4 linked regions of the Homo sapiens genome follow. The protein of the gene in region 1 purifies or fractionates together with the protein of each later gene. This does not show direct contact. Each region holds a gene or a part of one and is shown in the gene's direction. Other genes may lie near its edges. The genes, in order: MAFK, CCDC6, CEP44 and DCAF4.

Region 1 (8,513 bases):
CCAGCCAGGGCCAGGCTGCTGGCTGGTATGGGCCGGGCTGCGGGGTGCCAAGTGGGGTGCCTCCCGCATGCTTAGTGGGGCTGTGTCCGGGACAGCCGGACAGTGGGGGCCCTCGCAGTGTAGGACCTCATCCTCAGTAGGAAGGGTGTCTGGCTGGTCTCTGGGACCAGCTGGGCTGCAATTAGTCGGTTGACACCTGTTTGACAGGCACCCACTGGGTACCAGTGCCACAGCGGCCCCACCTACCCTTGCGGCCCAGTGTGGAGGGCACCCGGCTTGGGGTCTCTGGCAGAAAGGCTCCTGGGAGAGGCGGGTACACCTTGGGTGGCCTCTGGTTTTGTGGATTGCACCTGCCGTGGGAGTCACTGGTCGGGGGGCGGGAGGGCGCTTGCTGCTGTGCTGCTGGGTTTCTGAACCCGTGTCTCTCGCACAGAGCTCCCGTCCTCCGTTCCTGGTCTTCCTCCTGCCCCTCCTCCCTCTCCCGCATCCCACATCCTCGGAGACCCGCGGAGAATAGAAGTGGAAGGGCCACTCCGTCTTGGTCAGACTGGCTGGGCAGCTGAGGGGGTGGGGCATGGAGTCTGTGTCATCATTCACCCCTTGGGCAAGAACAAGTGACCCATCCAGAGCCCCCATGCTGGCCTCGTAGAGCGAGCGGCAGCCCCGATGCGTCCTCTCATCTGGGAAGAATCAGAGCCCCAAAGCTGAAATCCCCGTTTCTCTATGGGCATCCACAGCCGGGACCGTTCAGAGGGGTCATCCAGCCGTCAGCTGCTCAACTCACTTTTGCACTCTCTCTTTTTTTTTTTCCTAAAAGATAAGGTCTTGCCCTGTCACTCAGGCTGCTGGAGTGCAGTGGTGTGATCACAGCTCACTGCAATCTCGACTTCGAGGCTCAAGCAATCCTCCCACCTCAGCCTCCCGAGTAGCCGGGACCATAGGCACATATGTGCCATCACAACTGGCTATTTAAAATTCTTTTTTTTTTTTTTTTTGTAGAGATGGGGCCTTGTTATGTTGCCCAGGCTGGCCTGAAACTACTGGGCTCGAGCATTCGGCCTCCGGAGGCGTTGCTATTACAGGCAAGAGCCACTGTGCCCAGTCCCAACTTGGTGGAGAAAATGTTCCCTCCTGGACCCCAAAGCAGGTCCTTCTCAGCTTGTGCCAGCACAGCAAGAGGTGCCAAGGCTGCCAGCCCCCCACTGAGCAGGGTCAGGCCCATGGGTGACCAGTGAGTATTTGCTGGGACTTAAAAAGTTAAAAATGGCCGGGCATGGTGGCTCATACCTGTAATCCCAGCACTTTGGGAGACTGAGGCAGGAAGATCACTTGAGTCCAGGAGCTCGAGACCAGCCTAGGCAACATGGTGAGACCCTGTCTCTACAAAAAAGTTTAAAATTCTCTGGGTGTGGGGGTGCCCACCCGTAGTCCCAGCTGCTCGGGAGGCTGAGGCAGGAGGATCGCTTGAGCTCAGGAGGTCTGCAGTGAGCTGTGATTTCACCACTGCACTCCAGCCTGGGTGACAGAGTGACACCTTGTCTCTAAAATGAAAATTAAAAGGGAAAACATGATCCTCCAGAAGCTGAGGTGGCTGCCTGGGGATCACCTGCTCCTGAAAGCACAGTTCTGGACGACTGACCCTGGGCTGCCTGCCCTGCCGGGGGGAGCCCAGGGCTCTGATCCTCACCCTCTGCAAGGTGCCTTCCTGGGCGGAGCCGCCCTGCCCTGCGCTTTATGGAGCCCAGGCCCTCAGTCTGGATCCTGGAAAGGGGCGCCCGGCGTCCTGGCTCCGTCACTCATCCCCAGCTGCAGCCGCAGGAATTGCCTCTGTCTGAGGCTGCTGGCAGTTCCTTTTCCTTGAGAGGAAGTGATGCCCCCGCTGAGCCTTGTTTAGTTCTGCGTCACGTCGAGGTGTCTGGCCTTGGGTTGAAAACCCTGCCTCTTCCATCCGAAAACCAGTTACCTGAGAGCTGTTCCAAGTTATAGGTGGTGCCGGAGAACTTTGCTGCCCGGCGCTGCTCCCGGGACGTGGGGCGTGAGCGCTGCACCCTTACTTACGTCGGCTGCTGGGGCCCCACAGCGGAAACTCAGACCCGCCCACCCAGGCCCCCGCTGTGGCGCTGAACACTGCACTTCTCTGGTGACCACCGAAACTCAGAGGAGCTCGGGGTGTCGGGTGCTTGTGCGTGGCGATGCTGGTGTTTTGTTAGCTGCTGGGCGTAAGACACAATGCGAGGACGTCGTTCCTCGGGGGCTGCTGGAGGGGAGCTTGGCTGCAGTGCTGACCAGGTGCTAATGCAGTAGCCCCTGCCTTGGGCCCGGGGTAGTGCACGGGCGTCTCTGCGACCCCAGGCACGCTTTCCCCCTGGATGACACCCTAAGGCTGCGTCTCTGGCCCTGGGGTGGGAGCGCTTTCTACATGTGCTCTGGCGGCCCTGGAGGCCATGTGAGGTCGGACAGTTCACAAAACCCCATTTAGGGCAGTCGTCATTTTTAGATCAGTTGCTTTACAAACTTTTTTTGTGCATACAAAACTCTTCTCTGAATGTCCTTCCAAAAGCAAGCTGTCATCTTTCTTGCCTCTGATGTTTAAAGCGACATTAGGTTAAGGCTACTTGGATTTATTCTGTGCATGGTGGGGAGAGGGAGGCGCCAGCACCATCCCATCCCGTGCTGGGTTCCTGAGAGAAGCTTTGCTGCTTGGCTGGGCCGTCCCGCTGCGTCGTCTCTCCAGGCGCGTGGCTGGTCCAGGCTTCCTCGGCAGAGCAGAGTCGTGACCTGCCCAAGGAGGTGGGGGGCAGGCTTGCGAGCACAGCGTGGGGGCCGCCTGGGAGCCCTGCGTCCGCCAGGTCCTCATTCTTCAGAGGGCCCCAGTGCAGGTGTGCCTCGAAGTACTGGGGTTGGAGCGGGGCACAGGCGTGCTTCAGTAGCCCTGGCAACCTTGACCTCCTGGAAGTAGTCAGCCACCCCTCCTGGGGCGCCCCCGGCTACCGTGTGCCTCCGCAGTGTCACAGGGCATCGCGGAGGCATCTTTTTAGTGGAAAGATCCCCACGCTGAACTCTGCCCCTGGCATCTGGCCGAGCCCCACACGTCACCGTGGGTCTGGCCAGACGGTCCTGTCCCCCGGACCTTCCTTTTCCGCCCGGCTGTGCTGCCACGGCGGGCAGTGGGCCCGGGGGCCCAGGAGCGGGTCCTTGCTGGGTGGGAGGCCCGGGTGTGTGGGAATGCGCGCGGCTCTGTAAACATCTGGTGACTCACCGCATAGCTATGTCGTGGCCGGCCTGTGCACTGACGTGCTCGCAGTGGAGCTGGAAGCGGTGCCCGCGGCCCCTCCCTCTGACATGGAAAAGTTTCTCATGGTGCTCCCAGCCGCCGGCATTTGCAGGTCCCCACGGTGGCGGAGGCAGCTGGGCCCCAGCCTCTCCACTGTCACCCTCACCCCAGGACGTGGTGCGAAGGAGCCTGGAGCCCACCTGGCCGTCCCCGGGACCGGCTGGTGCCATCCTGTGCCATCTACGTCAGCGCCCTGAGATCAGCTGGCCTTGGCAGGGGCAGCGGACTCGGCAGCCTGGCGCAGGACCCTGTCTCACCTGTGCGGCCCTCTTGTTGTGGGGGTTTGTGGGTTGCGGGGGTGGGGCCCCCATCGGAGGCAGGGCTGGAGGGTGGAGGGATTTGGGCCCGAGGGCTCCCTGGCCCAGGGTGTGGGGAGGGTCCTGGGCTGGCAGGGAGGACGGGATGCGGTCACCCGCCCCCATGATGCCCATGTCCAGTGGAGGTGCTGACCAAGGACACCCCCCACCGCCGTGTGCTGCTCTGATGTTCCTGTGGGAACCTGTGTCTGGTATTTGGGGTATGGGAGTGGGTGCTGTGAACCCCTGTCCCGCGAGCTGCCCGGCGCCTTCTGCCCGCCCGTCCCGGCCGCCGGGTGCAAATGGGTTTGTTGACTGCCTGCCGGCCTCGTGATGTCTGTGCAACCTGACCTGAAGTCAGGATCGCGTTTGGGCTTCTCGGTTTCCATGACAACCGTGGGGGCTGGCTCGGTCCCAAGGTCGCCATGGCAACTATCGGAGGGCTCATGCCGGGGATGCTTTGGCTGGGTTTTTCATGAATGATTAGAATGTGTGACACAATGCAGACGTGAGGACGGCGGGGGCGGCGGCGGGGACGACTCCCGCCAGACGGTCAAATGCTCGGCAGGGCGGCGGCTCCCCCACCTCCCTGGTCTCTGGCTGCGGCCCCCGGACCTGCCGCCCCTCAGGAACCCCACACCCCCTTGGGCCGCAGGGTCCTCGCTCGGGGGCAGCTTAGGTGGAGGTGGTGATGTCACAGCCGCAGCGGCCAGGGCCGTGGTAGGTGTCCCGTGGCCTGTGGGGAGGGCGGGGCGGGAGGGCGGCTGGGCCTCCACCCAGGCCCACCGTGGGGGATGGCGATGTCAGGGGCTCCCCAGAGGCCCCCTCTCGGGGATCCAGGCTGGGTCCGGAGCACCGGAGCCTTTGCCAGTGTAGGGTCGCTGTCCAGCGGGGCCCCACACTCCTCGGGGCCGGCACAGCTGTCTTGAGGGAGGGAGGTTTTGCCACCAGTCACTTTGGTCCTCGGTACGGGGCACCTTGTGCTGTGCAGGTGCAGACGTCTTCTCTGACCTCAGGGAGAGTCAGAACAGGAAGCAGCCACTGCCGGCGCCTGCTGGTCACCCCACAGTGCCGGCGGCTGCAGCCCAGGTCTGCAGGGCAGCAGGGGGCCGCACCTGGCTGCCAGGCCCTGGGGTGGGGTCCCAGCCGCTCTGTGGAGTGTGCTAGAGTGTGAGGTGCAGCCAGACCTTTCCCTGAACCCTCAGGCAGGGACAGAGGCCGGGCCAGGATGCCTCACCCCCTGGGAAGCCCCTCAGGACGGGCTGGGCCCGGATGGTGCCCCGTCTTGTTTTCATGGTGCTGTGACTGTCCACCCCGGGCTGAGAAGCATCCCTGCATGGGAGGTGGGCACCCTGTCCGGCGCTGCCGGCCCTGACCTGTGCTGGCTTCTCTGCTTGTCCATGTTTTCCAGCTACGAGTTCCAGGGAGCTCTGTCCTGGTGACCGTGCCCGGGTTATGACGACTAATCCCAAACCGAATAAGGCATTAAAGGTAAGGCTGGTTCCAAGCAGGCCCCGTCTCAAGCACAGGCGTGGGAAAGGCCCCCGGCCCGACAGCCCCTGCTATCCCAGGGCCGTCCTGAGCCTGTGATGGAGGCCTCCCTGTTGCCAGGAGGAGGGGGGCTGCTGTGGCCGAGGGATGTTCACAGGAGAGGTGGAGTCAGGATCGGGGACTGTGGTTCCAGGCGATGACTCCCAGGCTGAGGGCGTGGCAGGGTCTGCTGCCTTCCCGCCTGGGCTGTGTGTCCGCCGGGCGCTACTGCATGAGCTCATCCCCTGGCTCCAGGCGTGGGCAGCGTGGCCAGCGTGGCCTCTGGTGAACGCGATGCTCCAGCTCCCAAGGCCCGAGCCCACCTGTGCCTGGCGCTTGCCGCCTCCACAATGGCGTGTGCCTGTGGGCCGGCTCAGTCCCAGCAGCAGGACCCATGCACTCTGGGTCCTCATGGGCTCTGAGGCTGTCGGTAACCAGGAGTGACCGATGTCACCACTGGCTTTTCCCGTTCAGAAAGGGTCCTGTGGGGCCACAGCTGTCACATGGGCTGCCTGCGTGCACAGTGTCCTGTGGTCCCTGGTGCGGATGGCGAAGGCCAGCCCTGAGAGCGCAGGCGTGCAGGGGCACCGCTGGGTTCCTGGCCACCCCAGTGTCGGTCCCAGGCAGACACCCCACGTTCTCCCGCCGCTGACCCCGCACTGTGGCCCCCCAGGTCAAGAAGGAGGCGGGCGAGAACGCCCCGGTGCTCAGCGATGATGAGCTGGTGTCCATGTCGGTGCGGGAGCTGAACCAGCACCTGCGGGGTCTCACCAAGGAGGAGGTGACCCGCCTGAAGCAGCGTCGGCGCACACTCAAGAACCGCGGCTACGCGGCCAGCTGCCGCATCAAGCGGGTGACGCAGAAGGAGGAGCTGGAGCGGCAGCGCGTGGAGCTGCAGCAGGAGGTGGAGAAGCTGGCGCGTGAGAACAGCAGCATGCGGCTGGAGCTGGACGCCCTGCGCTCCAAGTACGAGGCGCTGCAGACCTTCGCGCGCACCGTGGCCCGGGGACCTGTGGCGCCCTCCAAGGTGGCCACCACCAGCGTCATCACCATCGTCAAGTCCACCGAGCTCTCCTCCACCTCCGTGCCCTTCTCGGCTGCATCCTAGTGCCGGCCGGGGGCGGGGGGTGGCGGGCGGCGGGCGGCGGGCAGGCGGGTGGGGGCACACCCCTCGTACCTGTCACTGGGATGCAGACTCTCGACATCCGAGTCCAAGCGCAGGCCCCTCGGGCGCAGGCAGCTCACACCAGGAAGAGACTGTATTGCAGGGTGAAGAGTGGGCTCCCGTGGGCCCAGAGCTGCACGCCGGTCCACAGACACACTCACGCCCGCCACCTGCTCCCCGCAGGATGTGTCTGTGTGTGGGAATTGGTATCTTGCACCCGTGGGAGTCGGGACATATAATGGAAAGGCCCTCGGGAAGTTCCGCGTCCTCTGTGGGGGCTGCCGGAAGACACGGCCCCAGGAGTCAGGCCCCTGTGGTCAGGTCTAGCATGGGGCTTGTTTTCCACTCCTGCTGTAAGCAGCCTTCGACACCTGTCCTGCCACGGCCTCCCAGCCGGTGCGGGAGCCCCTCACTGCCCTGACCGACTCCGCAGTCCCCGGGGAGGAGCATGGATGGTGTGTCGGCAGCTCCGTCCTTCCAGCTGTCCCGTTGCAGTGCCCGTGATCCGCGTCTGCCTTAGCAGGGGCCTGCGTGAGTGGGCACGGTGTGGGAGGTCGCCTGCGTGGGGTGGTGTCTGTGTGTGTGCACGCACGCCTGCCATCAAAGCAGCAGGGCTGAGGGGGTGCAGCTTGCTGGTGTTCACTGGGGGAGGGCCTGTGGGCACACATGGCAGAGAGAGTGGCTCACACGTCGTGAGGTCTCCCCTGTGCTCTGGTGACCCGAGGAGGTCGTGCAGCACAGCGCAGAAGCCCCTGCCCACGGGATCCGGCCCCCCAGACACCGACCCCACAGGCCGTCCCGGATCTCAGCGGACACAGGCAGGAGCGCCCCATCATTTGACGGTGAGCAGGACTCAGGCTGTGTGTCCTGGAGCTACTTCTCACCAACTGTGGTCAGTGCAGGGGGAACGAGGAGGTCTTTTGGGGGCCTGGCGAGGGGAAGGGCTGCTGCAGTCTAGGGAGAGGGGGTGCAGCCTGGGGGATGTTGGTGGACATGGATGTGGAGGTGGAAGGAGGAGGACGTTGCGTGGAGTGGTGGGAGGAGGCGGGAGCCGTGTGCGAGAGCAGGTGGAAAGCCTTGAGGGGCAGGACCAGGATGCAGCTGGCTTGTAGAAGAGCTCAGGAGTGAGCCTGGCACTCCAGAGGGCGCGGCGGGTGGGGAGGCAGCAGGCACCAGTCCAGGAGAGCTTCGTGGACGTGGCTCCTGCGCGCACACCCCCAGGAGCACAGCCACGGGCTGCAGGTGTGGCTGGCCTCAGCACTCAGTCCTCACCCGGAGCCTTTGCCTGCTCCTCCTTCCAAGAGCACTGAGGCACCAGTGGGCTTGGCACTCCACCTTGGGCTTCCTTTTCCTGGAGAGCCGCCTTGAGGGTCCCTCCTGTGACTGGGGTCTCTGCAGCGAGAGCCGCGGGGGTTGCGGAGCCCCTGCCTGGGGGAGCTGGCGGAATGTGAGCCGCCGGCCGGGGGCCGCCACATAAGACCTGCAAGGTGGTGCCTGGGGCCCTGGCTCCTTCTCGGCTGCCCCTGCCCACCCAGTAACAGCCCCCACCAGCTACAGAGCCCAGGCGGGTGCCAGCCACGCTGGGAGGGCAGAGGACAGACAGCCCCGGGGCTGCGACTTGGTTCTGTGTCTACTGTTAGAAGTTGAGTGGGAAGCTGCAGGCCCGCCAGGACCACTGGGTCCCTACAGAGCAAAGGCCTGCGTGTTCCCAAACAGCCGTTGCCCCCGTGGCCGTGGTAGGTAATCCATATTGGATGTCATAAGGACCAGGGGGATATTTAAAGAGAGAAACAGAAAATATATAGAGATATAAAATTATATTCACAGTTTATCTACAGATTTTTCGTAACAATCTTTCTTTTCCAGTTTGATACTGTAAATCTATCAGAGCAGAGCCGGGGGCACGGGCACAGGTGGGAGTTGGGAGCAAAGCGGAGGCCCGGGCTGCCCGCCGTCCCCCTTCATCTCCCCACGGACTGTACCAGGCAGCTGGGCCCCGCAGGACAGGCCGCAGCGGGTGGCCGGTTCTGTCCCGTCTTGGGGTTCTTGGTGTCCACGTCTTGTGGGCCGTGGGCTTCTACCTGCCCTTGGCCTGCAGTGCTTTGCTGGAGAAGGGACTCCCTGGTCCCCAGGGTGGACGGAGCCGCTGTCACCGCCCAGAGCTGGGCCGGGGAAGCACGGTGTGTTC
Region 2 (3,500 bases), on another chromosome or scaffold:
TGTTGGTAGTACTAACCATCTCGGGAGGTTGAGATTGTTGCTTCTTAAGACTAAGCTACGAAGAGTTTCAGAAAGGGGAATGTCATTTGGCTGTAAAAGTAAAACCGCACTTTGGATATTATTTTCTGATGTTTGATTGCTTTAAAAGACTACATTTTATTCATGTTTTTGGTTCTGCCTTATGTATACACACGGGATCTTTGGATGAGGAGCTTGCCTCTGTGACCCACTAAGGAAATGTGGAATCTATTAACATCTTTGTGCAATCAAGAATAATTTGTTGACTCAACCATTGAAAGGTGAATTGCCACTGGTTGAAGAAATAACATGGAAGCAGTAGCATAGGCTCTTTGCATTAAGAAAAAATTTTTAATTATTTAATATGTCAAGTACGGAGAATGATAGAATACATGTCCTCTACTCATTGCTATGAAACCTCTTGCACTTTCAGTCTCTCTTACCAGCCCTCTTTTTCTACATATCTGTTTCATACTGTTTCACAAGTATATAATTGTTTCATTTACTGTCTTGACCCCCACTAAAAGGAAGATCCATGAGGGCAGAAATTCCTGACTCCTTGATTCACTGCTATGCCCCCATTATCCAGTCATTGTTCTCAGTATTTATTACATATTGCTCAATATTGATTAATTGAATTTTCCCATGTTTGCTTCATTGAAATAGAACACTGTTGGGGTTCCCTCCGCAACTGCAAAGCCTCCCCCAAATCAAATTTTCTTCCTTCCCTAAATCCTTAGAGTAACCTAGAGTAACCAGTATTGTGGATTTGGTGTTTATCATATTTTGTGCGTGTTTTTATATCTTAGTACATGTTTATTTATCTCCATTAGCCAGTATGTAGAGTGTTTGGGAGCTTTTAAGAGTTATTTATATGAATAGTAATATAACCTTTCTGACTTACTGTAAGGGACAAGCCCGGAAGAATAACTGTAAGCCCAGAACTGTAAGGGACAAGCCCAGAAAAGTCCTGATATGACTAGTACACCGAACTCCCCTAAAGACCTCTCTAAGGAGGACTTTCCACTTGCCTTGAATAAATGCTGAAACAAGCAATGCATTTCATGTACCAGACAACAATTAAGCATTAACATCCAAGAATGAACCTATCTAGTTTTTTTCAAAGTTTAAGAACTAGATGCACTTAATATGTTTGTGCCAGAAAATTGGCCACATGTTTGCAGTATTCTCCAAGAAAAGGGGTCCTAATTGTTCAATCAAAAAATGTATTAACAAAGTATAAGTGGCCTGACACTTTGGTAACACTTTTTTCCTTCCTTTAGTTGAGACGGGAGAAGATTGACCTTGAAAATACATTGGAACAAGAACAAGAAGCACTAGTTAATCGCCTCTGGAAAAGGATGGATAAGCTTGAAGCTGAAAAGCGGTTTGTTTAGTCTTGCTGTTCAGTATGGGTGTGTGTGTGTGTGTGTGTGTGTTGCTGCTCTGGGTGTGACTGAGGAATAGCAGTAGGACACCTTAATTCTTTGGTGATGCACATCATTTTAATTGGCCAAAGGAAAAAAAATGTTGAAAGCCTTCTGAACTATTCCCATGTTGGGCACCTCTTTATTCTTTGCTATCATACTGTCCCAGTAGAATTTCTTTTCATTTGGTGTTACAAGGCTATGAGAGAATTAGTCATGCTGCTATTGTTCACCTTTAAAGTATTTTCAAGAATGGTTGCAATTTCAACTTTCCACCTTATTGAACTGGCTTCCTCAGTTGTTTTGTAAAGTACATAGGGTATACTGCGTACTATTATTTATACATCTCTGGAATTTACTTCTTTAGGAAGCCTGAGATTTTAATAATAAAATTGTTTTAAAACCTACTGTAAAGAAATACCTTTACATACTTAAGGCTAGGATTCTTTATATAAAATGTATGTACTTGGAAGTGGAATGTCACTCAACAGCAAACATTTCTTAAACCTCTTTGTGCAAGATAGTTAAGCCCTTATTTTCAAGCACTGAGTACTTTGGAGTGTGTGAGGCAGGGCTTGTAAGAATGGGAAGAAGATTCTGTATGTGGAATGTGTGTACGGGTGTAAAAAGTGAGTTTCTTAAAAATGGTCATTAATCTACTTCACCAAGATCTTTTGTTTGCTACCCAGAGCCCTTCCTCCTTAAGTATTTGGTTTGGATGCATATTTGTAATTGTTTTGAGTTCATGTCTACATTTGCAAAATACAGGCATACCACATAGCTTTAAGAAAAGTGAAAATTAGAGCTATATCTATAAGAAATACTTGTTATAATCATATCCACTATGCTTTACTGATAGGTATTATTGTAGCAGTACTAATAAGTTGAATTACGAAAAGTCATTTTATGTAATAAATGCAGGGACCATTATAATATTTAACACACTAGTTTTCTCAAGGGTAGACCTGGATGGAGGTAACTCAGTTTGCTCCTGGACAAACTCAAAGGTACAAAGCAAAAACAAAACAAAAACCCCAGCAGCTATGGAAAGGGATTTAGAGATCTGCTGCCAAAGGAAGACTTTGTAAAAGGCAGTTGGAGGTTTTACATGTATTAGTGCCAAATTATTGGGTTGAACAGTATGGAAGTTTGCATTTTGTAGGTCAGAGCTATTGAATATCAGTATTTTATATCCTTCAACATAAAAATAATTGGTAAAGAAGGTGGCACTACTAATTATTAACCTAACAATTTTGGTTTTGTTTTTAACTTTTTACCTTTGCTGTGGCCAAAAGCAAAGGGCCGCTAGTCCAGTTTGCCATGCCCTTGCAATTAGTTTTGCAGGAGGGAATTTTAGAAGTTGAGTCTCTGTGTTACTTTACCCTCCAAGGAGATTCATAGTAGCTTAGAAGCTTCAATCAAAAGCCGTAAGAAAATGGAATTTCCTCAGCATCTTCATGCACTAAACCCAAGAAGTTGAACATTGAGTCAGCAGGTATTTCTAAGTGCATACTGTATTCCAGGCATAATTATCAGATCCTGTTGTTAAATAAAGACTTTTCAGTATTGTTTAATTTAAAACATTTAATAGTCATTTAAAAGGAAAAAGGGAGATTAGAATCAGCTCTGCCCTTTGAAGTGAGACACCACGTAAGGGCAGAAGTTTGATGTAAAATGGGCAGAGGAATTAAGCAACCCTGTGAATTCTGGCAGTAAACAGGAGTTTGCTTTTAAAACAAACCTGCCAGCTAGTATGTTGTTTTGTCTTTTCAAGGAAAACTGTTAGTCATTGTTGGAATTTTTCTTTTCAATGAAGAATCCTGCAGGAAAAATTAGACCAGCCCGTCTCTGCTCCACCATCGCCTAGAGATATCTCCATGGAGATTGATTCTCCAGAAAATATGATGCGTCACATCAGGTTTTTAAAGAATGAAGTGGAACGGCTGAAGAAGCAACTGAGAGCTGCTCAGTTACAGCGTACGTAGCCTCTGGTTTCACTAGTTTCATGCCTGTAGAATTAATAACTTTACCAAATATAGGGTATTACCAACATTT
Region 3 (8,513 bases), on another chromosome or scaffold:
TCTAATTAATCCAATATACAGTTTTCACTTTTCTGATTGGCACCTGATGAACATTCTAGTTAGATATTGGAGTTCATTGATTTTTAACAGTGCATGCCATATATTTTTGGGCAGTATGCCTGAAGTTATAACAATAGGATAGAAATATAAAATTAAATACGTGTTCTCTTTATATTTCTAATTTCTAATTCTGCCGGATTTCCTAAACAGAAGAGTAGTGATTTAGGAAGATTATCTTATGCAGTTATCTACATTTGCTCTTAATTGTGTTCTGGTCTTCCTAAAACATGGGAACATATGAAGAGCCTACATTAGCAGTAGTGATAGGTTATAATGATTCATTTATGTACATTATATTTCTGTAACCAAGTATGAATTATCCAATAATTGGTAGTCCCTACACGTAGAATCTGGTTTTCAGTTAATATTTTGAATATTTTCTCTTTCTTGAAAGATAATTTTTCTGCCATTATCTGCTTTGAGCAGCTGTGGCAAATTGAATCTAATGCACTTAGAGCTACAGTGTTTCTATCACTAAGGGAGACTTAAGCTAAAATATTATTTATTAATATATTTTCAGCTGTCTTCCAGCTGGAGAAGACTCTGATTGAATGATAGAATATCAGATGAATTATCAATGGTGTAATTAAGTAAAGGATGTGAATACTTTCTGACTGAAGTATAATCTAGAGTATTATTTCTGCCCTAATCCAAAATACATGAGTTATGTAAACAGAATCTATTTTAAAAATTTATTCTTGGGTCTAGCACAGTAGCTCATGCCTGTAATCCCAGCACTTTGGGAGGCCAAGGCAGGTGGATCACCTAAAGTCAGGAGTTTGAGACCAGCCTGACCAGCATGGCGAAACCCCATTTCTACTAAAAATACAAAAATTAGCTAGGCGTGGTAGCTGGTGCCTGTAACCCCAGCTACTTGAGAGACTGAGGCAGGAGAATCGCTTGAACCCTGGAGGCAGAGGTTCCAGTGAGCCGAGATTGTACTACTGCAGTCCAGGCTGGCTGACAGAGCGAGACTCCATCTCAAAAAAATATGTTTATTCCTTTATACCTTAAAAAAGTGAAATTTTATTATAAGAAAATGTTCTTATGCCACTTCTTTTTAATGTACCTGTTTTGCTCTAGGTAATGAAGACAATATAAAGAATGATACAAAGCCGCCATTTTTGAATAAGTGCATGTAGTTTTTGTACACTTGCATCTCTAACTCATCTAACTCTTGTTAGTTTTATTTATGATTTTCTAACTGTTAAATGACTTATATCTTGTATTCTTCCCCAACTAGAAGGAACATATATGAACAGGGATTTTCTTATACTGATTTTTTGTACCTTCATTTTGCTTAGCACAGGATTAGGAACACTGTGAGCACTTATTAATTATTTATTGATATAATGTGCTTTTCAATGTTCTATTTCAGTATGAGAGTTGAGGGGACAGTGTAAATTGTCCTAGCCAAGAAAAATGTAAACTTCAAAACATTAGACTTATTTTTAATTTTCTTAAAGCAAAGTTTTCTTTGTTATCTATTAAAATTTATACCAGATCTTTATCAGAAATTTGAATAAGTATTAAAAGTTCTCAGATTTAGAAAAGAGTCTACAAGTACATTTCTTTGTTTACAAGCAAAAGTTGAGTCAATATTAAAGCAAATTGTCTCCTATCCCAGTGCCTTATATAGTATGCCTATTTGCGCTTCTGAGTCACATATGTTTTTATAGTGTGTATGCAAACTGTAGAATAGGAAGCAGGTAGAGGATTTCTAGGTAAATGCATACCGTGACCTAATGCTTTTTTTGTCAGGACTTCTTCGTTGTCATTATTAGGTTTGAATTGTTAGCTGAAGGTCTAATAAATTGCAGTTTGTTTAACAGAAAAATTGTAATGAGCCCTACTCATAGAGCCAGTTTTTGATTATTTATAAGTGAATTATTTGGCAATCTTTTTTAAAAATAACTTTTTATTATGGAACATTTCAAACATTTACAAACATACCCATCATCCAGTTTCAGCAATTTATCAACTCTTTGCTAATCTTGTTTTGTCTTTATTTTAAATCAAATCTCAGACATAATTTAATAAATATTTCAGCGCTTGTCCTAAAATGTAAGAATTGTTTTAAAAGTCATAACCCCAATTTTATCATCACACATAAATTATTGGTAATGTTAGTAATGGTAATATTTTGATATATATATTATATGTGATAATTTAAACTTTTTTTAATTTTTAAAGATTGGTGTTCCTTTTGCAAAATTGCTGTATGTTTAAAATAATTGTAGGAGGATCTTCTCAGCCCAAAAGCTTCTTAAGCTGATAAGCAACTTCAGCAAAGTCTTGAGATACAAAATCAATGTGCAAAAATTGCTAGCAATCTTATCTACCAACAACAGTCAAGCTGAGAACCAAATCACAAACAAACTCCCATTCAAAATTGCCACAAAAAGAATAAAATACCTAGGAATCTAGCTAACAAGGGAGGCAAAAGATCTCTACAAGCAAAACTATAAACCATTGCTCAAAGAAATCAGAGATGACACAAACAAATGGAAAAACATTCCATGCTCATGGATAGGAAGAATCAATATTGTTAAAATGACTGTACTGCCCAAAGCAATTTATAGATTCAATGCTACTCCCATTAAACTACCATTGACAGTCTTCAGAGAACTAAAGAAAACTACTTTAAAATTTATATGAAACCAAAAAAGACCCAAATAGCCAAGGCAATCCTAAGGAGAAAGAACAAAGCTGGAGGGATCATGCTACCCAACTTCAAACTATACTACAGGGCTACAGTAACCAAAACATCATGGTACTAGTACCAGAACAGACACATAGACCAATGGAAGAGAATAGAGAACCCAGAAATAAGACCACACACCTGCAACTATCAGATCTTCAACAAACCTGATGAAAACAAGCAATGGGGAAAGGATTCCCTAGTCAGTAAATGGTGCTTTGATAACTGGGTAGCCATATGCAGAAGATTGAAACTAGACCCTTTCCTTACACCATACACAAAAATCAACTCAAGATGGATTAGAGACTTAAATGTAAAACCCAAAACTATAAAAACCCTGGAAGACAACCTAGGCAGTACCATTCAGGACATAGGTGTCGGCAATGATTTCATGACGAAGACGCCAAAGGCAATTCCAACAAAAGCAAAAGTTGATAAATGGGATCTAATTGAACTAAAGAGCTTCTACACAGCAAAAGAAACTATCAGCAAAGTAAACAGACACCCTCCGGAGTGGGAGAAAATTTTTGCAAACTTGTATCTGACAAAGGCCTAATATCTAGCATCCATAAAGAACTTAAACAAATTTACAAGAAAAAAACAACCTAATTAAAAAGTGGACAAAGGATATGAACATCTACTTCTGAAGAGAAGGTATACATGCAGCCAATAATCACATGAAAAAAACTCAACATCACTGATCATTAGAAAAATGCAAATCATAACCACAATGAGATACCATGTCACGCTTCTCAGAATGACTATTATTAAAAAGTCTAAAAATAACAGATGCTCGTGAGTTTGTGGAAGAAAAGGAACATTTATACACTGTTGGTGGGAGTGTAAGTTAGTTCAACCACCGTGGAAGACAGTGTGGCAATTCCTCAAAGACCTAAAGACCATTTGACCCAGCAGTCCCGTTACTTGGTATATACTTAAGGGAATATAAATTGTTCTGTTGTAAAGATGCATGCATATGTTCATTGCAGCACTATTCACAATAGCAAAGACATGGAATCAAGCTAAATACAATAGCAAAGACATGGAATCAACCTAAATGCCCATCAATGATAGAGCAGATAAAGAAGATGTGGTACATACACACTATGGAATACTCTGTAGCCGTAAAAAATAATGGGATCATGTCCTTTGCAGAGACATGGATGGAGCTGGAGGCCCTTATCCTTAGCATATTAATGCAGAAACAGAAAACCAAATACCACTTGTTCTCACTTGTAAGTGGGAGCTAAATGATGAGATCACATGGACACATAGAGGGAAACAAAACACATTGGAGCCTTTCAGAGGGTGGAGGGTAGGAGGAGGTTCAGGAAAAATAACCAATGGGTACTAGGCTTAATACCTGGGTGATGAAATAATCTGCACAACAAACCCCCATGGCACACATTTACTTGTGTAACAAACCTGCACATGGACCCCTGAACTTAAAAGTTAAAAAATAAATAATTGTGGGAGGAAAACATTGAAGTGTTTCTTACATATTTTTCTCTATGCAGAAGAAAGCTGTGGTGATTCGTCACTTGTATAATGAAGATAATGTTGACATTTCTGAGGATACATTAAGTCCAATAACAGATGTTAATGAAGCAGTTGATGTGTCTGACTTAAATGCTACTGAAATAAAGATGCCTGAAGTAAAGGTTCCTGAAATCAAGGCTGAGCAACAGGTAACAACTTTGGACTTTTTAAATAGATGCCAGTATTTTTTACTTAAATATGTGTAATTATTTCAGCCTCTAAACTTTGGAATATTTCTAGCCTTTTGAATTATTAATCATGACATTTTATCTATGTTACAATTACTGAAGTGTCAATAAGTCTTACTAAAATAATTCAACAAATATTTGCTGCATATGTGTAGGGTGCTGGGCTAAGTGTTGGGGTGATGCAAAGTAGAATAAGATATGGTACTTGGCTTTAAGGAATCTACAATTTAGTGAGACATAGCGATATGCTACTTTGCATAGTGGAGGTTCTCTACCACCTATTTTCTTTATTGGTGAATGGAAAAGATTGGCACTTTATTGCCTATTCATTTTCCTTTCTGGGTCCCTGCTGTTATTTTCTGTCTCTCTTAAAAAACCATTTCTATTACTCTTAATTGCCACAGACCCCAATATGTCTGATCTCTACTGTTTCTGCTAAGACTTCTTTTTCTGTGTTTCTATGTCTTGTGATTTCTATATATCTCAGTATATCAATATACAGTTGGCACTTACAAAAACTACCAGATGGCCATTGGACCTACTTCCTGTTATATGGCAAACCGAACAATCTCAATGCACTAAGTGTTGTTTTTGGTCATTTCCTCTTAGCTTTGTGCTAAGCGTTGTTTCAAGAAGCTAGTTAATAATAGTTTTATTTTACTAGCTGGTATTAAGAGAATCATGCAAATTAACTCATTATCAGAAGAATCATATGAAATAGATACTGCTCTTATCTCTTTTTTTTTAATGAGGAAATGGAGGCATCAAGATCATAAATCTCAGAACTGGTTTAAGTGGCCAAGTAGTCTCCATCCAGAGATAGCTCTCTTAACTCTCAAGCAGGACGGTCTCTCCTAACTGTTGAGATAACGCTGTGGAAGTGAGAATACATTAATTTTAAAGAAATTTCAGTTTGTTTAATTTTATTTTTAATCTCTCTAACCTTTTTAGGATGTAAATGTTAATCCTGAGATTACTGCACTACAAACTATGCTTGCTGAATGCCAAGAAAATCTTAAGAAACTGACTTCGATAGAGAAAAGGTTAGACTGTTTGGAACAAAAAATGAAAGGAAAAGTGATGGTAGATGAAAACACCTGGACTAATCTTCTTAGTCGTGTCACTCTTCTTGAAACAGAAATGCTTTTGTCTAAAAAGGTATTTTCCTCCTTTAACATTTATAAAATATCTCAGATATAACAAAGTTTTTTTTTGATTGTTATATGTGTATTTTTTTGGAAATGCTAAATATGAGAATATTTGAATAATGAGAAAATGTCTAGTTAGAATGAAGTCCTGTTTAAATATAGCCTGTATGTTGTTGTGGCTGTTGTTTCTCTCTTCATTGAATAAGATAATCTGAAAAACTTGTCAGTTGAGCTTTTACAGATGTTAATAATGCTTGAAGAATTTAAAATGAGGTAAGAATATGATAGATATGAAAAGCTTAAAATTATTTTATATCTTTTAATAGTACAAATAACCTATTTTCATAGGGTAGAAAAGATACAGAAGATATAGGTAACTCTTCCCATCTTTTTTTCACTCATTTACTTCAATCATATTGTGAATTTCATAGAATAGTTACCAGATTTACCATTGCCTTATCAAATCTGAGAAATTTGTTTTTTTTTACTCAGGATTTCAATTTCTGGTCTGTCTTTCCTTCCTAGAAGGTGAAGTCAAGTAGCTTGCTATCTGCTTCCATATTTAAAACATTTCTTATATGTAGGAATATGCAGTATATGTATTGCTTTAATAAAAAATTAAAAATATTTAAACATTTATCATGCTACCTTTATATTTTATGCTCAGCATTAAGAATATAAAATGAGAGGGTTTTTCTTTTTATTTCATTCTAAATATTTAACTGTGTTATTCCAGAATGATGAATTTATAGAGTTTAATGAAGTTAGTGAAGACTACGCTTCTTGTAGTGACATGGACCTTCTGAATCCTCGTAAGTTTGTAAATACTATGAGAATTGGTATGATGAGTTTTCAGAAAAATGATTGTTATAGTAATTTTAATATTCTTAAGCTTTATTGTTTAGAAATTGCAAAGCTCCTAGAACAAAGAACATAATGAACCTACAGACTACTAAAGCCAAGAATTGCTTAACTAACCAGCCTACTTATTTCACATAACATAGTGGGTGAATAAATTTCAGTGTACAAAATTGAAAATTTTTAGAGATATTTTACTGTTTTAATCATTCGAGAATAATCAAGTGCTCTAGGATATTAATGTTGGCCTCCAAGTTTTTAAATTTAAGCTTAGGTAGGTAGTAGCTTTCTCATATGTAAATAATAATATGTAAGAGAAGAAAACACATTTGTCAGTATCTATAAAGTATTGCAAACTTCTTCCATGTGAATAGTTCACTGATAATGATAAAATGGGAAAGATCTGATATTAGGATAGGTCTTTTCCTGGTCACTTTACTAGGCTACTGATATTTTGCTTAGTGTGACTGAGCAGCAAGGGTAAGATTTCTGTTTTTCAGTGACAGCTTTGTTTTGATTGTTATGTATTTTTAAAAGATCTAAATTTTGTGCCATATCTATGATTAAATCATAGCTATAGAAGAGATGTTTTGTCCAATTGAGAATTCATCGTTAAGTTAAATTTTTAATATCTGTGGATTGTTAACGTTATAAAATCTTTCAGCTCTACTATATGTGTAACAATAAAATAATATATATTCTAGCACTAACAGTGTGCCTGGCACGATTCTAACTACTATATTAACTCATTTAATTCTTGAAGTAACCATTGCAAGATAAGTACTATTTTTATATTTTACAGTTGAGGAAACTGAAGTACAGCAAAATTAAGTAACTACAGCAAAGGTCACACAGTTATTGAATTGTAGATCAAATTTGAATCCAGGCAACTGATCTGAAGTTTTTTCTTGACTGCTGCATATTTGGAGCACATATCAATATCATTGCACAAAGAACAATTTCAGTGATTAGCTTGTTAAGTATAATTATTTGAGATGCTATTTAAGGCAACTAAATTTATTATAGGCTGCAGATTTCAGATTTGGTAAAATGTTGCCTGTTTTATTTATCCATTCATATATCTATTCAACAAATGTTAATGCTTGAGTATAAGATCCTTGAGAGCAAAAACTTTATCTTATGGTCTGCCTGTCTAGCACACAGAAAGTATGTCGGTGCTTTTATCACCAGTATTTGCATATAGTAGAGTTTAAATATTTATTCACTGAAAGAATATTGAATGCTTGTGATTTGCAAAACATTGCCTTTTTCAAGTTTGATTTTGCATGCTCAGGCTTATTTTTTTTTAATGACATGATTATAGAATATACCTTTAACCTATTTAGAAAACACATGGCTAAGTTTTTTTTTTTTAATTTTTTAATTTTTTTGAGATAAGTGTGGTCTTACTCTGCTGCTCAGGCTGGAGTGCAGTGGTGCAATCATAGCTCACTGCAGTCTCCTAGATGTTAACTCCTTGGCTTAAAGTGATCCTCCTTTCTCAGCCTCCTGAGTAGCTGGGACTACAGGTACGTGCCACCACACCTGGATAATTTTTTATTTATTTACATACTGTTTTTAGTAAAACAAGGTCTTGCTATGTTGCTCAGGCTGGTCTTGAACTCCTGGGCTCAAGCAATCCTCCCATCTCTGCTTCTCAAAGTACTGGGATTACAGGTGTGAGTTAACATGTCCGGGTTCACATAGCTAAATTTCAACAACTGTGCCAGGACTGAAAGTAATTAACAGGCCTCTATCTGAAATGGATTACAGATTATGATTAGGTTGAATACCTGGTCTCATAGAGTTTATGATCTGATCTAGATTAATTAAAAGACTCAAGTTTATAAAGACTTACACATTATACCTTATACATGCTACTTGGAAATAGGGTTTGATTTCATTTGAATGCAGAGAGCAATAATTTACTACTCTGGGTTTAGGATCATATTAAATCAGGAATAGTTTTTGTGAGGTTCCAGATTTGTTTTGCCTTTATCAGGAATACAGTGTTCCATG
Region 4 (8,513 bases), on another chromosome or scaffold:
TCCAGGCTGTGCCACCCTGCTCCCAGCATCACTGTTCGTCAATAGTCACCCAGGTACAGGGTTCTCCTCCTTTAAAGAAATCTGTCCTCTGTCTCCCGAGAGCTGTGTGGGGGTGGCTTAGAGAGAAGTATGGGGCCGCTGCAGAGGCACTGTGGGAGGATTCCCTAAGCCTGTCCCAGGGTTAGTACCAGAAGCATGTGTTTTTTTTACAGCATCTGCCCCTTTTTACCCATCTTGGGCCATTTCAGTCATTTCAGCAGCCAGAGCAGACTTAACACGCATGTAAACCAGCGTGAGCTCAGAACAGATTCGGACGCCCGTGCACATCATTCAGAAAACACCTCTGAAGGTCCAAAGCACCTCAGGTGCTATCAGGGATACTTAACAGTCTGCCTACGTTAAGGCAATTTGACTCCTCCTTCCTGACAGCATTCTGGATATTACATTTCAGTCTATCAGAAAATTAGGATCAATAAGACCAGGGTGAGAGGCCTCTTAAGAGTGTGGGCTTCAGGCAGACCTGGCACGAATCCCAGCTCTGCCCCTTGCCAACTTGAATGGAATGTTGAACCTCTCTAAAGTGGACAGGGCCTTCTCAGTCCACATCCGTGGAGAATTAGGTGAGATCATGCACATTTAGCCCAGTGCCTGGTATTTCATTGCACAGCAAGCTTATGAGGCAGGAGTGTGTCTTACCACCATTTTACAGATAAGGAAACTGAGGCAGACAGTTTCAGAATTTGTCTTACAAAAGTAATTTTTAGTGTTGGAGGTCAGGCTCACAGTACCCTTTGGGGAGGTAGTAATTGGGAAAGGGATGTGAGGGAGGCCTCTGGGGTACTGGATTGTTTTATGTCTTGTCTTGTCTTTTTTTTTTTTTTTTTTTTGAGACGGAGTTTTGCTCTTATTGCCCAGGCTGGAGTGCAATGGCACGATCTCAGCTCACCACAACCTCCGCCTCCCAGGTTCAAGCAATGCTCCTGCCTCAGCCTCCCAAGTAGCTGAGATCACAGGCGCACACCACCACGCCCGGCTAATTTTTGTATTTTTAGTAGAGACGGGATTTCACCATGTTGGTTAGGCTGGTCTCGAACTCCTGACCTCGTGATCCACCTGCCTCGGCCTCCCAAAGTGCTGGGATTACAGGTGTGAGCCACAATGCCCGGCCTTTTTTTTTTTTTTTTTTTTTTTTTGAGATGGAGTTTCACTCTTGTTGCCCAGGCTGGAGTGCAATGACACGATCTCAGTTCACCGCAACCTCCGCCTCTGGGGCTCAAGCGATTCTCCTGCCTCAGCCTCCCAAGTAGCCAGGATTACAGGCATGTACCACCACACCCGGCTGATTTTTGTATTTTTAGTAGAGATGGGATTCTCCATGTTGGTCAGGCTGGTCTCGAACTCCCGACCTCAGGTGATCCACCCGCTTCGGCCTCCTAAAGTGCTGGGATTACAGGCGTGAGCCACCACGCCTGGCATGGATTGTTTTATTTCTTAACCTGGGTGGTGGGTACATGGCTATATTTAGTTTGTGATAACTCACTGAACTGTATCCTTACAATCTGTACGTTCTATCAATGCAAAAGTTTATTTTAAAAAATATTTTTTCGAAGCACAGTGGCTCATGCCTGTAATCTCAACACTTTGGGAGGCCAAGGCAGGATAATCGTTTGAGCCCAGGAGTTCAAGACCAGCCTGAGCAACATAGCAAGACTCCAATCTCTACAAAAAATAAATAATTAGCCATGTGTGGTGGCTCACACCTGTGATCCCAGCTACTTGGGAGGCTGAGATGGGAGGATTCCTTGAGCCTGGGAGGTTGAGGATGCATTGAGCCATGATCACGCCACTGCACTCCAGACTGGGCAAAAGAACAAGACCCTGTCTTAAAAAAAAAAAAAAAAAAAAAAAATATATATATATATATATATATATATATATAGTTTATTTATTTATTTATTTGTGTGTGTGTGTGTGTGTGTGTGTGTGTGTGTGTGTGTGTGTGTGTATATACACACACACTTGCCTGAGATCACATAGCTGGTAGGTGATCGAGGATCGGAGCCACCTTACCTCCAACAGTATACTACCTCCCTGATATCAGTACTATTCGTACTGTAAACACGACTACTGGGAACGTTAACAAAGATGCATTTTCGGAATAACCACTTGTGAGCCAGGCATCCCAGCTGAGTCTCTCTTGCAACCACAAAACCCAGAATGGGGCCAAAGGTATAGACCCTCTGAGCAGCTATGGGCATATTTGGATGTTTTCCGAACCCAGTGGTCCCTGGCCTGCCTAGAAGGCAGCCACACTTTACATTCTCCTATCCCCTTAGCAGGAATAGACCGGCCTGGCATGCTCTGCAGTTTCCGGATCCCTGGTGCCTGGTCCTGTGCCTGGTCCCTGAATATCCAAGCAAATAACTGCTTCAGTACAGGTGAGCCTGGCTCCCCAGGTGCCCAGAGAAGAGGCCTTAACAGGCCTTAAAACCCCATGTAGTTGTCCCTCTCCCCAGACTACATGTGACATAATCTTACCAGCCCATCTCTGTCTCCGCCAGGCTTGTCTCGGCGGGTCCTGTTGACCAACGTGGTGACGGGACACCGGCAGTCCTTTGGGACCAACAGTGATGTCTTGGCCCAGCAGTTTGCTCTCATGGTTGGTTGGATTGGGACAGGCAGAATATAAAAGTTTGCCCCATGTAGAAATTTGGCCAGATTGAAATTGGACTCCTCTGTGTGCCATCTAGTACTCTTTGACAGGGGAGAAAGAGCATCAGAAAGGATCAGTGGGTTCCTTTGTAAGGGTGTCTGAGCCGAGTGAAAGTTGGTTGATCCAGAAAGGCTGGCCTGAGTTGCTCTACACAACCTCTCATGGAAAGGTATTGTGAGCAGTTCTTGGGTACTTGGATTTACCCAGTAGGACAAACCATTTTTAAAATGTATAAGCCAAACACCAATTCTTCACAGCTCCCAGGTTATATATTTTATATGTTTAAAAAATCAGGCCAGGTACAGTGGCTAATGAATGGCTGTAATCCCAACACTTTGGGAGGCCAAGATGGGTGGATCACAAGGTCAGGAGTTCAAAACCAGCCTAGCCAAGATGGTGAAACCCCTTCTCTACTAAAAATACGAAAGTTAGCCAGGCATAGTGCTGGGCGCCTGTAATCCCAGCTGCTCGAGAGACTGAGGAGAATTGCCTGAACCCGGGAGGCGGAGGTTGCAGTGAGCCAAGATCACACCACTGCACTCCAGCCTGGGCAACAGAGCAAGACTCTGTCTCAAAAAAAAAAAAAAATTGTGGTCATTACTATATTTCACAGACTTTTCTCTAGAAAATGCCGTCTTCCCTTAAAAGTGAATGAACCCACTAACCTGCTTTTGGTGGAGATGGAATGCTATCTCTGGGACTTCAGAGAGAAAGGCCAAACGGGACAGTGCAGGGGGGTGGGGGGCAGCTCCTAGGACCTCCGTGCTACCCATGAGGAGGACACATGGGGTCTGGTTCTTCTAGCCACTAACAAGGAATCATCCTCCCTTCCAACTCCATTGAGACCCAAACCCTGACCAGCACGTGTCTAATCACACCGTCTGACCCAGAGGCTGGAAGAGGGGTTGTATCAGGAGGACCTGCCCTGCCCAGCCTCAGAGGGATGTCATGATAGCCAGGCACTGAGCAGTCCCTCTTTCCACAGGCTCCTCTGCTGTTTAATGGCTGCCGCTCTGGGGAAATCTTTGCCATTGATCTGCGTTGTGGAAATCAAGGCAAGGGATGGAAGGCCACCCGCCTGTTTCATGATTCAGCAGTGACCTCTGTGCGGATCCTCCAAGATGAGCAATACCTGATGGCTTCAGACATGGCTGGAAAGGTAGGGGATCATGGACTTTCTCAGGCCACAGGGTCTCGTGGCCCAGTGCCCTGCCAGGTGAAAGGGTTCTGCTGAAGAGGTCCTCACACCAAGACCCCAGGCAGGGGAATTTCGCTGAAGACCAAGTGATTTGTAGGCCCTGCATGGGGACTGCTTCGTTGACCATATGAGCCTAATCTGACGTAAACAAAAGTGAAAAGGATTCTCTGGTTATGTCCTTTTTTTTTTTTTTTTTTTTTTTTTTGAGATGGAGTCTTGCTCTGTCGCCCGGGCTGGAGTGCAGTGGTACTATCTTGGCTTACTGCAACCTCTGTCTCTCAGGTTCAAGCGATTCTCCTGCCTCAGCCTCCTGAGTAGCTGGGATTACAGGTACCCGCCACTGCGCCCGGCTAATTTTTGTATTTTTAGTAGAGATGGGGTTTCACCATGTTGGTCAGGCTGGTCTCGAACTCCTGACCTCATGATCTGCCCACCTTGGCCTCCCATAGTGCTGGGATTACAGGCATGAGCCACCGTGCCCGGCCTGGTTACATGCTTTTGATGAACAACAAGGCTCAAGAATTCGAGATGGAGATCTTCATGACCTGCACAGGCCACTGGAGACCACCTTGCCTTCCTGGCTTTGCACTTGGGGACCACCATGGTACCCCCTGGCCCCTCCCTGATGGCCCCTGGTGCTTTTTCCACAGATCAAGCTGTGGGACCTGAGGACCACGAAGTGCGTAAGGCAGTACGAAGGCCACGTGAATGAGTACGCCTACCTGCCCCTGCATGTGCACGAGGAAGAAGGAATCCTGGTGGCAGGTACTTGAGGAAGGAAGGGGAAGTTCCACCCCATCAAATACTGTCTCTCAGGGGCGATCCCAGCAACTTCAGCAGCAGAGGGAAAAGTTACCCCAAAACAGAACTGAATCAAGGGGAGTGTGGACAGCTGGGTGGGGAGACTAGGAGGGAAGTAGAATTAGATTATATTAGTAATCAGGAGTGTAAATAAATGTCCACCAGGTGGACAGCCTCATCCCATGTCAGTGGGCAAACGTCACTTCAGAAACAGGCAGGTGGGGAGGTCCTGGGGAGCCTGGGTTTGGAGTTTGAGTGGATTTCATCAGGCCAGCATTATTCCACCACGCAACTATCTTATCCAAAAACTTGGGCTCCCTGTTGTCTCTACTCACATTTCCACCAGAGGATGCTGAGAAAAGAAGTTATGGTCATTGTAAAGATTCTTGGCCCCGGCCCGGCGCGGTGGCTCACGCCCGTAATCCCAACACTTTGGGAGGCCAAGGAGGGTGGATCACGAGGTCAGGAGATTGAGACCATCCTGGCCAACATGGTGAAACCCCATCTCTACTAAAATACAAAAATTAACTGGGCATGGTGGCACCTGCCTGTAATCTCTCAGCTACTCGGAAGTCAGAAGCAGGAGAATTGCTTGGACCAGGAAGTCGGAGGTTGCAGTGAGCCGATATCACGCCACTGCACTCCAGCCTGGCAACAGAGCGAGACTCCGTCTCAAAATAAATAAATAAATAAAAAAGATTTGTGGCCCCTTTACTACCATCCCTGTGGCTCCATGATCTGCAGATTAGGAGCAGCTATCTGGCCACTAAGCCCCCTGGAAGGGAGTTACCAGTTGATTACAGATGATGGTGGCTATAGCGTAATCAGACAGTGTGCAGGCTCAATGCTTTCACACTGAAATAGTAGCTGCTGACACTGCAGAATGTGTTCTCAGTCTTCAAGAATTGTCACCTCTACTGGTATTCCTATAGAAAGGGCTTATACCCCATGGAACATTTTTGTGGCTAGGAAGCATTACTTTGTTAGGACATTCATAGACTTATTTACTATTCTCATCAACACCAGGACTTCGCCTCCTTTTTAAGTCGATTTTTCACCTGTTTTTATCACAGAAGAGCTCTTGTGAGCTGGATGATAGAGAGAGCTCAGCCTTGCTGAGAGGCAGATGCAGGTAGTTACCAGCTGCAGTAATAAACTGCAGCCGGGATTCAGCTTCAGCCAAGATAGCACTTCTGGTCTTAGAGCCACACAAGTGATCAGAATCACAAATGTGAAATCCATGACTGCCCAAGGCCTGTCCTCTTCTCCTGCTGAAGGTCTCCAGTAGTGTATATCATGTTTCTGGGCTGCTGTAACCCATGCTGTTGTGTGTCACAGTCCTCAGAACTGGAGCCCTGAAGACTTAAACCGGTCCTAGGAACTGAAGCATTAAACCAGAAAGAGCTGTGGGGAGAGTTGTCAACCTAGCCCATCCCCAGGATGTAATGACTTTGACAGATCTTTTACTATAACATGAAAAGATCAGGCCAGGTGTGGTAGCTATAATTCCAGCACTTAGGGAGCTTGAGGCCAGGAGTTTAAGACCAGCTGGGGCAACACAGCAAGACCCTATCTCAAAAAAAAAAAAAATTAGGCATGGCGGCACACACTTGTAGTCCCAGTTAACTCAGGAGGCTGAGGCAGAAGGATGGCTTGGGCCCAGGAGTTCAAGGCTGCAGTGAGCCCTGATCACACCACTGCACTCCAGCCCGGGCGACAGAGCAAGACCCTGTCCCTAAAAAATGGGGGAAATCAGTTGCATGTCACCTAGACCAGGTGGGCCACACTCGCACTTGAACGTTCCGTGACATCAAGAGCAGCAGAATACCCAGACATTAGCCAGGATGTCTCCGAGCCATTCATGGCATCACACAGCCAACCAGGGCATCTTGTCATTGTTCTAGCACAACAGGGCGACTTGGGTTATCCGTAGAAATACTGTCCGTTAATGAGTTTGTGTTTTGGCTCACATGAAATCACAGCCCTGAGGAATCTTGGGAAGCCATGTCCACATGTAGGTAAGTTTTCCTTTGCATTCTCTCACTAGCCTGCCATGTGTCTCTCCTCTTTCCTAGTGGGCCAGGACTGCTACACGAGAATCTGGAGCCTCCACGATGCCCGCCTACTGAGAACCATACCCTCCCCGTACCCTGCCTCCAAGGCCGACATTCCCAGTGTGGCCTTCTCGTCGCGGCTGGGGGGCTCCCGGGGCGCGCCGGGGCTGCTCATGGCTGTCGGGCAGGACCTTTACTGTTACTCCTACAGCTAATTCTGCAGGGCACAGCCCAGAGCCATGTGGATTTGACTTACGGGAGTAAAGCGTAACTTTTTACTGCATCTAATGAGGGTGTTTTAAGTGACACTCAGTGTACACAGATCCCATCCTCTGGCTGCTAGGAGAGAAGTGCTGAATGTTCCGTGTGGAGATGCTCAGGAAAGTTATTTGAGTTAAATTGCTGGCTGAGAGAGCTTGGAAGTCCTTTTCATAAAAGGTACCTCTTTCCTTTTCTTATTGAATTCTTAGAACTTAGTTAACCCTCCCTGCCTTTTCTTAACAAAAAGGACTTTTCTAAGGACTGAAGATTGGCAAAAACGAAAAGCTTCTTCCTCCAAGAGCCCATTGAAGAAGCCCAGTGATGAGACGGTGAGATGGTTTGAGTCCTCGGTGCCTGGGTAGCAGGAAGAAAGACCTGCATCCTGCATCTGTACTTGGGGAAGCCAGCGGAGAGGACGGGGAGGTTACTTCTCTAAGTTTCTGCAGAAATATTGAAGGCTGGAGTTTGGAATCCTTAAACTTGGCCTTCTCAAACTCAGCAGCAGATCTCCGGGATTCTGCTGTTATTATCCAAAGGCGTTGGAAGGAAAGATGGATCTTCTTACATGCTAGAAGTTTTAAACGGTCCTTAACATGCCTTTGTTCAAGCACCTTCCAGAATGTAAGGTTCAGCAGCTCTGGTTTCTATTACGGTGACTTGAATGTCAGATTCAAGGGCCCGGCGTCAAAGGAAATTGGTTTTGACTTTTTGTAATCTAGGAGCGACAGTTCGTGAGATGTTTATTCAGTGTTAAAGAGCCTGTTTTTCTACCAAACAATAAAACCAAGAGAAGAATCATGGTGTGACATGCACTTCTGTGAATGACTTAGGAGATCATGAGCTTGGGCTGCTGGGACCAGCTTTCATAGCCTTCCTGGAGAGCTTCCCTGGGCCCCTCCAGACCCACTCTGCCCTCATCATCTGTCCATCTCCACCCTGCTCTGTGCATGCCCAAAAGACTCACCTCTGGACTAGGTCAGGGTTCCCTGGCTCCCAGCAGCTAGGTAGGTTCAGCCAGTGGGAAGCAGCAGTAGAACACAGAGGGCAAGAGGAGAGGGAGTGGTTCCCCGGCTCCCTTCTGGTTGGGCTGTGGGTGGCTGTAACCAAAACCCACCACTTCTATTGGAAAGCGCTCAGAGAGAGCCGGGTTCCAGCAACTCTTCATTTGTCCCTTCAGACCTACAGCTGGTCATCACACCTCACTGTTGCTGGCCCAGAATGCCTCACTAGGTAGACTCGCAGTTACCCACTTGAATGTTTCCTGCCAGTACCCTGACTAATACAGCATATTCTATAAAGAACCAAATTTTTTTTTTTTTTTTGAGATGGTGTTTTATACTTGTTGCCCAGGCTGGAGTGCAATGGCGCTCTCACCGCACCCTCCACCTCCTGGGTTCTAGTGATTCTCCTGCCTCAGCCTCCCGAGTAGGTTGGATTATAGGCGCGTGCCACCACGCCTGGCTAATTTTGTATTTTTAGTAGAGAT

What was found.
Region 2: the proteins of MAFK (region 1) and CCDC6 purify together in Homo sapiens (affinity purification with mass spectrometry; one large-scale study listed by BioGRID and IntAct). This does not show direct contact.
Region 3: the proteins of MAFK (region 1) and CEP44 purify together in Homo sapiens (affinity purification with mass spectrometry; one large-scale study listed by BioGRID and IntAct). This does not show direct contact.
Region 4: the proteins of MAFK (region 1) and DCAF4 purify together in Homo sapiens (co-immunoprecipitation; one large-scale study listed by IntAct). This does not show direct contact.

Annotation. Positions count from the first base shown.
Region 1 is NC_000007.14:1,534,108-1,542,620, forward strand, and holds part of MAFK (transcription factor MafK), read left to right. Parts: exon of another isoform or gene 1-773; intron 774-3,339; exon of another isoform or gene 3,340-4,350; intron 4,351-5,041; 5' UTR 5,042-5,085; coding exon 5,086-5,121; intron 5,122-5,833; coding exon 5,834-6,268; 3' UTR 6,269-8,513. UniProt on the Homo sapiens protein: Since they lack a putative transactivation domain, the small Mafs behave as transcriptional repressors when they dimerize among themselves.
Region 2 is NC_000010.11:59,812,557-59,816,056, reverse strand, and holds part of CCDC6 (coiled-coil domain-containing protein 6), read left to right. Parts: intron 1-1,301; coding exon 1,302-1,405; intron 1,406-3,261; coding exon 3,262-3,422; intron 3,423-3,500.
Region 3 is NC_000004.12:174,304,411-174,312,923, forward strand, and holds part of CEP44 (centrosomal protein of 44 kDa), read left to right. Parts: intron 1-4,278; coding exon 4,279-4,449; intron 4,450-5,439; coding exon 5,440-5,646; intron 5,647-6,372; coding exon 6,373-6,448; intron 6,449-8,513. UniProt on the Homo sapiens protein: Centriole-enriched microtubule-binding protein involved in centriole biogenesis. In collaboration with CEP295 and POC1B, is required for the centriole-to-centrosome conversion by ensuring the formation of bona fide centriole wall.
Region 4 is NC_000014.9:72,951,825-72,960,337, forward strand, and holds the end of DCAF4 (DDB1- and CUL4-associated factor 4), read left to right. Parts: coding exon 1-53; intron 54-2,336; coding exon of another isoform or gene 2,337-2,339; coding exon 2,340-2,438; intron 2,439-2,561; coding exon 2,562-2,659; intron 2,660-3,698; coding exon 3,699-3,872; intron 3,873-4,561; coding exon 4,562-4,676; intron 4,677-6,787; coding exon 6,788-6,981; 3' UTR 6,982-7,879; downstream 7,880-8,513. UniProt on the Homo sapiens protein: May function as a substrate receptor for CUL4-DDB1 E3 ubiquitin-protein ligase complex.